Linked DNA regions of Homo sapiens. The protein of the gene in region 3 purifies or fractionates together with the protein of the main gene of each other region. This does not show direct contact. Each region holds a gene or a part of one and is shown on either strand. Other genes may lie near its edges.

The links. The genes of interacting proteins can lie anywhere in the genome.
Region 1: the proteins of SLC16A14 (region 3) and SVIP purify together in Homo sapiens (affinity purification with mass spectrometry; one large-scale study listed by BioGRID and IntAct). This does not show direct contact.
Region 2: the proteins of SLC16A14 (region 3) and CLCC1 purify together in Homo sapiens (affinity purification with mass spectrometry; one large-scale study listed by BioGRID and IntAct). This does not show direct contact.

What each region holds. Positions count from the first base shown.
Region 1 is NC_000011.10:22,819,802-22,823,301, forward strand, and holds part of SVIP (small VCP/p97-interacting protein), read right to left. Parts: intron 3,333-3,500; coding exon 3,318-3,332; coding exon of another isoform or gene 3,311-3,317; 3' UTR 536-3,310; coding exon of another isoform or gene 515-535; 3' UTR 1-514. UniProt on the Homo sapiens protein: Negative regulator of the ER-associated degradation pathway (ERAD) of misfolded proteins. It competes with AMFR/gp78 for binding VCP/p97, and inhibits AMFR/gp78-VCP/p97 complex formation that is required for degradation of ERAD substrates.
Region 2 is NC_000001.11:108,956,985-108,960,484, forward strand, and holds part of CLCC1 (chloride channel CLIC-like protein 1 isoform 1 precursor), read right to left. Parts: intron 1-3,500. UniProt on the Homo sapiens protein: Anion-selective channel with Ca(2+)-dependent and voltage-independent gating. Permeable to small monovalent anions with selectivity for bromide > chloride > nitrate > fluoride.
Region 3 is NC_000002.12:230,048,425-230,051,924, reverse strand, and holds part of SLC16A14 (monocarboxylate transporter 14), read left to right. Parts: intron 1-170; exon of another isoform or gene 171-1,076; intron 1,077-2,020; coding exon 2,021-2,164; intron 2,165-3,500. UniProt on the Homo sapiens protein: Proton-linked monocarboxylate transporter. May catalyze the transport of monocarboxylates across the plasma membrane.

The sequences.
Region 1 (3,500 bases), on a different chromosome or scaffold from region 3:
ATGCAATTCAGGATATAATAACAAAAAAGTATGATATCCACAGGAGTAATGTATGAATACTTAATTTGTAGGCAATAGTTATCACATTCAAAGTCAATATTTGCAAGATGAAGCATAACTAGAAGAGGGAGACTAGAACAATAAAAAGCCATATCAAATGGGAAACTTAGTGTTTTGAGTTACTGGAACCAAAACTTCATCAAAGTCTGTTATACATACAAATGCCTTGTGTCTGTAGCTTTTGAGAAAATTGAAGAAAAAAGCCACAATACTATATTTGAATTAGCTTAGAGCATGTTTAGTAGTTAAGAGAATTTGAAATGCTTGCTTGGAGATGTTAAAGAAATATACCTTATGTCTCAACACATATAGGCAGTCATGGCTACTTACCTCTTACTGGTCTATTCATGCAGAAATTATTCAAAACTGGCAAGAGCTGCTTTTGTCTTCTAAGAACATAGCATAATGCTTATCAGTGAAAATAAAAAGTCAAACATTTGGAGAAAGGGAAAATTCAAAGTTCATGTCCATTTTCCTGGGGTACAAAGGATAGACAGAATTTTTATGATAGTATTATTTCTTTAGGAAAAAACAGGATACTAATTACATCATTTTTCCTTTATAGAAAATCCACCTATAAATCCAGGGATTGTATGAACACACCAAACAACCTTTGGTTCTGTTGCTCTTCTGAATCCCAATGTGATTAAAATGTTCCTGAGGTTTCCCTAACCACCAACTCAGGTTCTAAGTATTTAGGATGTAGTAAAGATAAAATTTTGTTAAAGAGACAGCTAAAGCTAATTTTTACATAGAAAAAAATGTATATTTATATCCCTAAAAGGCAATACAGAATTTATAACCAAACCATGTGTGAGAACTGTTAAATTACATTCCAAATACCAGCAGTGGAACAAACAGAAACACAGAGATGTTTTAAAAAACATGCAGCACGTTACAAAGAGGCCGTGTAATAATTCACAACTTTTGTTAGCAGCCGTTAAGTTTGATTAGTATTAAGCAGCAATGGTTTAAGCAATTTTAAATCATGATATGATAGTTACATATATGCATTTTACTGTTCCAATTATAGTTTAGTAATAGGTCAGGGGTTTGAGCAACATTTTAAGCATTATAATTTTCTCCTAAATTATTTACTATGGGAAATTGGCTTCCACTTAAGGTTTTCATAGAAACTGATGGTTATTTTATGAGGGAGATGTCTGGACGTATGTGTGTATGTGCATGTGTGTGTGTGTATATACACACACATATATAAATTAGAATTTGCAGATATTATGTGTATATATATACACACATATATAATATATATATTATATATATATATAATTTTTTAGTCATGTTTTTAGTCATTTGCTTTTTTTTTTAGTCATTTACCGGTTTCTCATAAGACATCCAGTCACTTCTTTTCCCTTGCCCTTTCCTAACACTGTTCCTAACATTTGGGTACCACCCCTTAGCTCCTGCGACCCATGTGGTTTTGGAGAAAGCTGATCACACTCACGGTGACAGGCCATGGTTGGAAGTAACATGTTCCACTTTTCACGAAAAGTAATAGATCTGAATATCATTCATGGTTAACAATAGATAGTGTGACATTTGGGTATGACCTGCTGGTAGAAATAGGGCATGATTCCCTGGAAGTAAGTCACTTACACCAACCCAAGTTCTAATTCTTTAAGATGTAGTAAAGACAAAATTGTTCTTGCTATATTAAAATGGAAGAAAGGATTTGCAGAGTTCAAGGATGATATGCTCTAGCTCTATATGCACTCCGCTATCAATCATTCCTTTTACTTTCTGCCTTGAAAAAATCATTTTAATAAAATCAAAAATTTTCATTCTAAAATATAGTTCAATGATTTCACTACCCTTTATGAACAAAAACAGCACGAATCCTCTAAAGAAGAAAATTGAGCCAAATTGTTATGTTTTGCCTAGATATTCACACAATATTTCACACCATAATAGAAAAAATAATTTTTCCATGAGAAGTCAAGAGACCTGTATTATATAATAGTTCAAACTTTTAAAAATTAACATGTACAATACACTGCAGTATAACATAATTTTTGTTGGAGGGGTAGATGAAGATAGTGGCTCAGTTTCCTTTGTGTAAAGCAAGTGAACTTGGTCGATTTAACTTAAAATTTCTATTAGCACTTAATATCTGCAAATTTTAATTTAGGGCTCAACATGTGGCCTTGCCATTTAAAAGAGCTATCAGCCTTAATAGCTAACACAAATTCTTTTATTTCAGTGTATTATATAGGAGAAACAAAAAATGCTATAAAATTCATGTTTCTAATGAACAAAAATGTTAAGGTTTATGACTATGCATTGTATAGAATTACCTAATATTTTTATATCTGAAGTAGACCTTTTGTAAGTACAGTACCTACATGTTTTTTTCATACATTCATACTTGCCTTCGCAGTTTCACATCTGTATAAATCTTATGATCGTTCTCTAATAAGTACACAAGATTAACACTACTTATGAAATATGGACAAATATATTACTACTCATTATAACCCATCCAGATTATTAGTTTAACTCATTCAATTACTACAAAGATCCTTACAGAGCTGAATTTAATATACAATAGAACATCACTGCCCTCTGATGGTATCACTAATATATAATTTTAAATTCAGCAAACAAAAAATCCTTTATCATAAAGTAAAACAGGGTATGTTAATTTTATAAGCTACATAAATAAAAATAAATTGGAAAAAATTTTACATCTGCCTAAGAATACTCATTACTAAGTTATAAAAATTTACAGTGCTCCTTCACATCAGCCCTTCAAATGATTTTTTCAAGATTCTCCCTGATGATCAGTTTAAAGGCACTAAGTCCATAAGTTTAATCAAACATCTTCATAGTGAAATAAAAACAGATGTAACGCGATGCAGCACAAATATAAGTAGTTAGATCATTTTATAAAGGATGAAAAGACAACTGCGAATTTTAATCTTAGAGGTATATGCAGAATGTTTACATGCAGTGTATGTATATTCACTATTTAGTTCCATTTTTTAACTACTAAGAAAAATAGCAAATCACCCACTAACTGCAGAAGAGCAAATGTAGGAAAATCAGTATTTAATGAAAAGTCTAGCCATTCTCTAAGCTTGAAAATCAACGTTTTTTTAGCATTGCACTTAAGGGCAATAATATTACAAAGTCTGAATCTTCATTTACTCAAAGAGAAGAAATTAAATTGATGAAGCCCACTTGATTGCAGATAATAAACAGTTATTGGCAGTAGATTCTTCTACTCATGTTATGCTTTATGAAACTGTCCACTAGAAAAGATAAAAAAGAGACAGAAAAGTAAATTTTACTTGAAGTTATATAACAGTACTTCAGTGAACAAACAGGTAAAAAGAGGAATATGGGACATAGAAATACAAAATGATTTTTCTGAATAGCAGCTATTCATAAAATTTTACATTATAGTCCAAAGCCTGAAA
Region 2 (3,500 bases), on a different chromosome or scaffold from region 3:
AGGGGCGTGATAGAATCTGGTTTACATTCTAAAAGACATTACTATGGCTACTATGTAGAGATTAGAATGGAAGATTATCAGGAGGTTAGGAAGATCTGTAGTCATCCACTTCAGAGATGAAGGTGACATGAGCTAAAGACAGCAGCAAAGGTGATGACAAATGGTCAGACTTTTAAAATCTGTAGGTAGACCCTACTACATCTGGCAAAATGACCAGCTAATAGGTCACTAGGCATATTTCTTCTTCCTTCTGGACAAATGATGACTGTATGTCTCAGCCTCTCTGTGAAGTATGGCCACGTAATAGTTAAGTTCTAGCCAACCCAACGGATAGAAGGGATATGCACCACATCCAAGTCTGGCCCATGAAAACCTCCCAGCTGCCCTCTCCCAACCAGGGAATTCCCAGGACACTGAGCCCTGGAGGAGGGCAGCCAAACTATGCAGGCACCTGGGCCCCTAAATGACCACCTGGAAGGCCACCCACTAAGTGGGAATATAGCTTTTCACTTTCATGTGAGCAAAAATTAATTTCATTTATGGCATATACTGAGATATAGGGGTTTATTTCTTATAACATCTCTTGCTACTCTAATACAGAAATACACTATAGAAATTGCTGAAAATTTGGATGTCGGTAAGGACAAGTGAAGATTTGGGACGATTTCTATGTTTGTGGCCAGGGCAACTGGGAGAAGGGAAAAGACTGAAGAAGACTGCAAGTTCTGAAAGATCAAGAGTTTTGTTTGGATATAGTAAATCTGAAGTGTCCACTGATGTCCAAGTAGAGATTATAAATATGCAGGATGAAGCTAAGGAGAGCAGTGGGACTACATTTGAGAACGATCAGAATGTAGACGGGGTTTAAAAGAGATGATCTGGGTAAGATCACCAGAAGATTTATTATGAGGACAAAAGACTGAGTCCTGGGCAAGCCAACATTCGGGGATCAGAAAGAAGAGGAGGAACCAGCAAGAGATAATTCTAGTGAGTGCTATGAGGCAGGAAGAAAACCAAGAGAGGTTGGAATTTCAGAAGCCAAGTGAAGAAAGGAGAGAGCAGACAAATATGTTGAATGCCGCTAAGAGGTCAGGCGATCAGAGGGCAGCAAACTGACCCCTGGATTTGGTACAGCAGCTTTAACAGAGAAAGCCTACCGGGAATGGTTAAAGGAATCATTCAGGTAAAGGTTTTGGATCAAGGTAACACAGTAACTCTACAGTGGTAACCCCATCTACGGTTTTGCTTTCTGAGGTTTCAGTTACCCACAGTCAACTGCAGTCTGAAAATATTAAATGGAAAATTCCAGAAGTAAACAGTTCCTAAGTTTTCAATTATGCACAGCTCTGGATAGTGTGAGGAACTCTCTTCCTGTCCTGTTCCATCCCACATGGGACGATGTCCACACTGTAGGTGTCACACTCCAGTCACTTAGTATCCATCTGGGTTACGACTGCTGTGGTATCTCAGTGCGTGTGTTCAAGGAATCTATACTTTACTTAATAATGGCCCTAAAGCACAGTAGTAACGATGCTGGCAATTCAGATATGTCAAAGAGAAGCCATAAAGTGCTTCCTTTAAGTGAAAAAGTGAAAGTTCTCAACTTAATAAAGGGCTGGGCGTGGTGGCTCATGCCTGTAATCCCAGCACTTTGGGAGGCCCAGCAGGCGGATCACTTGAGCCCAGGAGTTCAAGACCAGCGTGGCCAACATGGCGAAACCCCGTCTCTACTAAAAATACAAAAAATTAGCCAGGCATGGTTGTAAGCACCTGTAGTCCTGACTACTCAGGAGGCTGAGGCAGGAGAATTGCTTAAACCCGGGAGGCGGAGGTTGTAGTGAGCCAAGATTACACCACTGCACTCTAGCCAGGGCGACAGAGCGAGACTCCATCTCAAAAAATAAATAGGCCAGGCACAGTGGCTCATGCCTATAATCCCAGCACTTTGGGAGGCCGAGGTGGGCGGATCACCCAAGATCGGGAGTTTGAGATCAGCCTGACCAACATGGAGAAATCCCATCTCTACAAAAAAATACAAAATTAGCCGAGCGTGGTGGCACATGCCTGTAATCCCAGCTACTCAGGAGGCTGAGGCAGGAGAATCACTTGAACCCGGGAGGCGGAGGTTGAGGTGAGCCGAGATCACGCCATTGCACTCCAGCTTGGGCAACAACAGTGAAACACCGTCTCAAAATAAATAAATAAATAAATATATGAAAATTAGCCAGGTATGGTGGCACACACTTGTAATGCCAGCTACTTGAATGGCTGAGACAGGAAAATCGCTTGAGCCTGGGAGACAGAGGTTGCAGAGAGCTGAGAGCACACCACCGTACTCCAGCCTGGGTGACAAAGTGAGAATCCAACTCAAAAGAAAAAAAAAAATTAAAGAAAAAAAAGCTCATATGATGAGGTTGCTAAGATCTATGTTAAGAACAAAACTTGTATCCATGAAATTGTACAGGAGGAGAAAGAAATTCATGCTAGTTTTGCTGTCGCACCTCAAGTGAAAAAATTCCAGCCACAGTACATAACTGTTATTATTGTGTATTGTTATAATTTTTCTATTTTATTAGTTATTGCTGTTAATCTCTTACTGTGCCTAACTGATAAATTAAACTTTAGCAGAGGAATAGATGTATAGGAAATAACATAGAATATATACAAGGTTCAGTACTATCTGAAGTTTCAGGCATTTACTAGGATCTTAGAATGTATACTCCAAGGGTAAAGGGGGGACTCTATACTCCCAAAGCACTTCCCCAACTCCTACTCCTGGCCAAGATGGAGTAACAGGGACCAGATTTACCCTCCTGCCTGAACAACCAAAGCTCTGCACAAAATAAATAGAACAATAGTTTCTGGCCGGTTGTGGCGACTCACGCCTGTAATCCCAGCACTTTGGGAAGCCAAGGCAGGAGGAACACTTGAGCCCAGGAGTTCGACACCAGCCTGGGCAACTTAGGGAGATTCCATCTCTACAAAACTTGAAACAAAATTTAGCTGGGTGTGGTGGCATACGTCTATATTTCCAGCTACTTGGAGAGGCTGAGGTGGGAGGATCACTTGAGCCGGGGAGGTTGAAGCTGCACTGAGCCGAGATCACGCCACTGCTCTCCAGCATGGGTGACAGAGCAAGACCCTGACTCAATTAAAAAACAAACAAACAAACAAAAAACACTAAAATCACTGTTATGCTCTGGAGATACTTAGAAATACTGAATAACTGTATACTTTATTGGAAAAAATTAAGAGTTCAACTAAGGAAGAAAGCCATGGAAGAAGCAAATACCAGAGAGGAGAGTGAAGGCTAATCAGGGCAATAGAAGACAAGCCAAAATATGCAATGGGCAAAAACTAAGGAGGGACTTAATTTCAAGAAAGTGGTATCAAGCGTATTCAATACTTCAGAGAAGTGGAGAGGAACAAAGTCTGGAAAAAAGCCATTGGATTGGTTAATTAGTTGGCCATTTATGACCTTTCAGAGAATGACAGTGAGA
Region 3 (3,500 bases):
ATTAAGTCTATTCTAAGGAGTTAATTTACTGAATTATTTCCTGTAATGCAACAGAGTTAATTAAATTAATAAGTCTTCACCTTCATAGTTTTTAGGATTAGGCACCCACAAAACCACTAGACAAAATAAACTCATTAGCTGACTGTACCCAGATATACACATGAATATAGTTAGAACTTTAAAGGAAACTTTATTTCAGTTTAAGCCAAAAGGGAAGCTCTTTAAACAAGTTTTTAATATAGTTCATCTGCATATAAGGTTTCATAACTTTGTAATGATCAAAAATAAGATAATTAAAATATGCCATCTTACTGAATATTGAGTACTAGCTCATATAAATCTGGATTCCTATTTAAACAAGGAATCATTGATCACAAGATAAGCTTTCAGCTTCAGTGACATCAGAAATTACTACAAAATCAGGAGGAGAATAAAGAAGGTTGACAATTAAGAACTAGAAAGTCAGCCAGGTGCCATGGCTCAAGCCTGTCATCCCAGCACTTTGGGAGGCCAAGGCAGACAGATCCCTTGAGCCTAGAAATTCTAGACCAGCCTGAACAACACGGCGAAACCCTATCTCTATAAAAAATACAAAATTAGCAGGACATGATAGCACAAGCCTCTAGGCCCAGCTACTTAGGAGGCTGAGATGGGAGGATCGCTTGATCCCAGGGAGGTGAAGGCTGCAGTGAGCCGTGATCACACCACTGAACTCTAGCTTGGATGACACAGTGAGACCCTGTATCAAAACAAAAACAAGAAAACAAAACAAAACTAGAAAGTCAGCGTAAAGGAAACAATCAGAATGCGTCTCATAAAATACTGTGCTGCTGTGAGTGTTGTCACATTTTACACAATGGAAATGGATTCCCGAATCTCCATAGCCTGATAGGTCTGGTCAGAGACTGTGCACACCAGCCGGGATGGGAGTCTGTATGAAGTGATGACAACTAGCTCTTTTCAGCTTGGTTTCAATCTGGGTATCCTCATGAAAACAGGCTATTAGTTTTCTGCCTGAAGCCCAGGAGTTCTGAAGACTCCCTTCCTGTACTCCCTTTTGGTCTCAGTTTCCTTATCTGCAAAATGGGTATAATGAAGAGAGCTTAGTTTACATGGTTGTTAAACCATTAAATGACATAATTTGTATAAAGCACTTAGCAAAGTGCTCAGTAAATGTTAGCTAACAGGTAAATATGGTTATATAGATACCTATGTAAAACATATAAGCTTAAGTATGTATCTTTTGATAGGAGGAGAAGGTGAACATAATAACCTACCGTCCATATAAATCCCCAAGTTGCTTCTTGGAATATATGTCTGTACACAGACACACACATAAAGCACTTCTGTATCCTTGAAGCATAGTTTAAAAACCATTGATTGAAGGACCCGATAACAGTTCTTTTTTTCCCTCATTATACATAATACATTTTTAATATTTCTATTTTAGTCAAAAACTGAAATGTCTTTCTATTTGGAAAGAAGCCAAAGAAATAATGTAATTGAGGCCAGGTTTAAGACCAGAGGGAAGGATAGAGACTGCAGCAAACTGGAAGGGGTGTGTCCCAGTCAAACGGGCTCAGCCACTGCACAGCTCCAACTAACTTTGGTCCTGTGGGAAGGTAGTCTGTGTTGCCACTGGACTTTTTGTGAATCCTCTTAATTTTTAAACATTGGCAACTAATTCCAGACATTTTTTAGACTTTGTATGGGATCGACAAAATGTATCCACAGGCTAGAGATAGCTCCTAGACCACTGGTTTTCTTGTAGATGAAAGAATGAATGTCTATTTATTTCAGGTCTGCCTTTCCTGAAAATCCAGAACCTTGTGCTCTCTGATGAAATTACTTAAAATCATCTTTGCATGCTAAAAATGTTTGGCATATAAAGCAATGGGGGCTTTTTGTGTCATTTAACAGCTCTAGTGACATTTTATTCTTTGTCTTCACATGAAGATTTATGAGAAAGAATAAAACGGAAGCACCTTTAGTCAATTCCTTTTCCAATGCTCTGTGACAGGCCCTTTCATCGGCTTGTTCATTAACACCTGTGGGTGCCGCCAGACTGCGATCATTGGAGGGCTCGTCAACTCCCTGGGCTGGGTGTTGAGTGCCTATGCTGCAAACGTGCATTATCTCTTCATTACTTTTGGAGTCGCAGCTGGTAAGCATGTGGCTTTTTTTAAACTCGATTTTAAATGTTTTATAAGACATCTTGGCAGTGGATTTAATTGTGGAGAAAAGAGACACATTAAAACATTCTGTTCTGTTTCCTCCCCCCCACTTCACCCCAACCCCTCCCTACACTCCTGGAAATACATTTTAACATTACATTTTAATATGCCTTAAGTGGGGGGAGCCCACCTAACAGCAAAACTTGGCCTGCCTAAGAGAATCAAATTATATTTCCATATGCCTGGTTCTAAATGCCAATGCTATCTCCAGTGAGGAATAGGAAAAGGAAGGCAGTAACGTTGACTTAGGTGAATGGACCAAAGATTAAGGAAATTACATCAGTGTGGTGTGGGAAATAAGCTAAATAATAGGCCAGGGGCAGTAGCTCACGCCTGTAATCCCAACACTTTGGAAGGCCAAGGTGGGCAGATCACTTGAGGCCAGGAGTTCGAGACCAGCCTGGCCAACATGGTGAAACCCCGTCTCTACTGAAAATACAAAAAAAAAAAAAAATTAGCCAAGTGCGGTGGCACCTGCCTGTAATCCCAGCTCCTCAGCAGGCTAAGATATGAGAATAGTTTTAACCCAGGAGGCAGAGGTTGCTGTGAGCCAAGATTGCACCACTGCACTCCAGTCTGGTTGACAGAGTAAGACTCTGTCTCAATAATAATAATAATAATAATAATAATAATAATAAAGCCTCCTGTGTGAAAATAGAAAAGAAAAAACATAAATACATAAGTAAATATTTTAAAAAAGATTAAGGAAACCAATAACGTTCATTTACTCTTTAATAATCATTTGTTTTTTTTTTTTTTTTTTTTTTGAGATGGAGTTTCACTCTTGTTGCCCAGGCTGGAGTATAATGGCACAATCTTGGCTCACTGCAACCTCCGCCTCCTGGGTTCAAGCAATTCTCCCACCTCAGTCTCCCAAGTAGCTGGGATTACAGGCATGCACCACCATGCCCAGCTAATTTTGTATTTTTAGTAGAGACAGGGTTTCTCCATGTTGGTCAGGCTGGTCTCGAACTCCCAACCTCAGGTGATCCACCTGCCTTAGCCTCCCAAAGTGCTGGGATTACAGGTGTCAGCCACAGCACCCGGCCTTATAATAATTTACTCTTTTAGCCCTGTTCAAATTCATAAAATAGCATAAACCACACATATATGTAGAGACGAAGAAGCAAATCTAGAGTACAGTTAGGTTGTCATTCCCAGTGAACAGGTTAATATTGGCTGCCAGCCACCACAATCTGCATATCCATTATGCAAAATATATTCCCAGCCACAATTTCCTTTATCAGCAGGTAGTGTGATTCACAC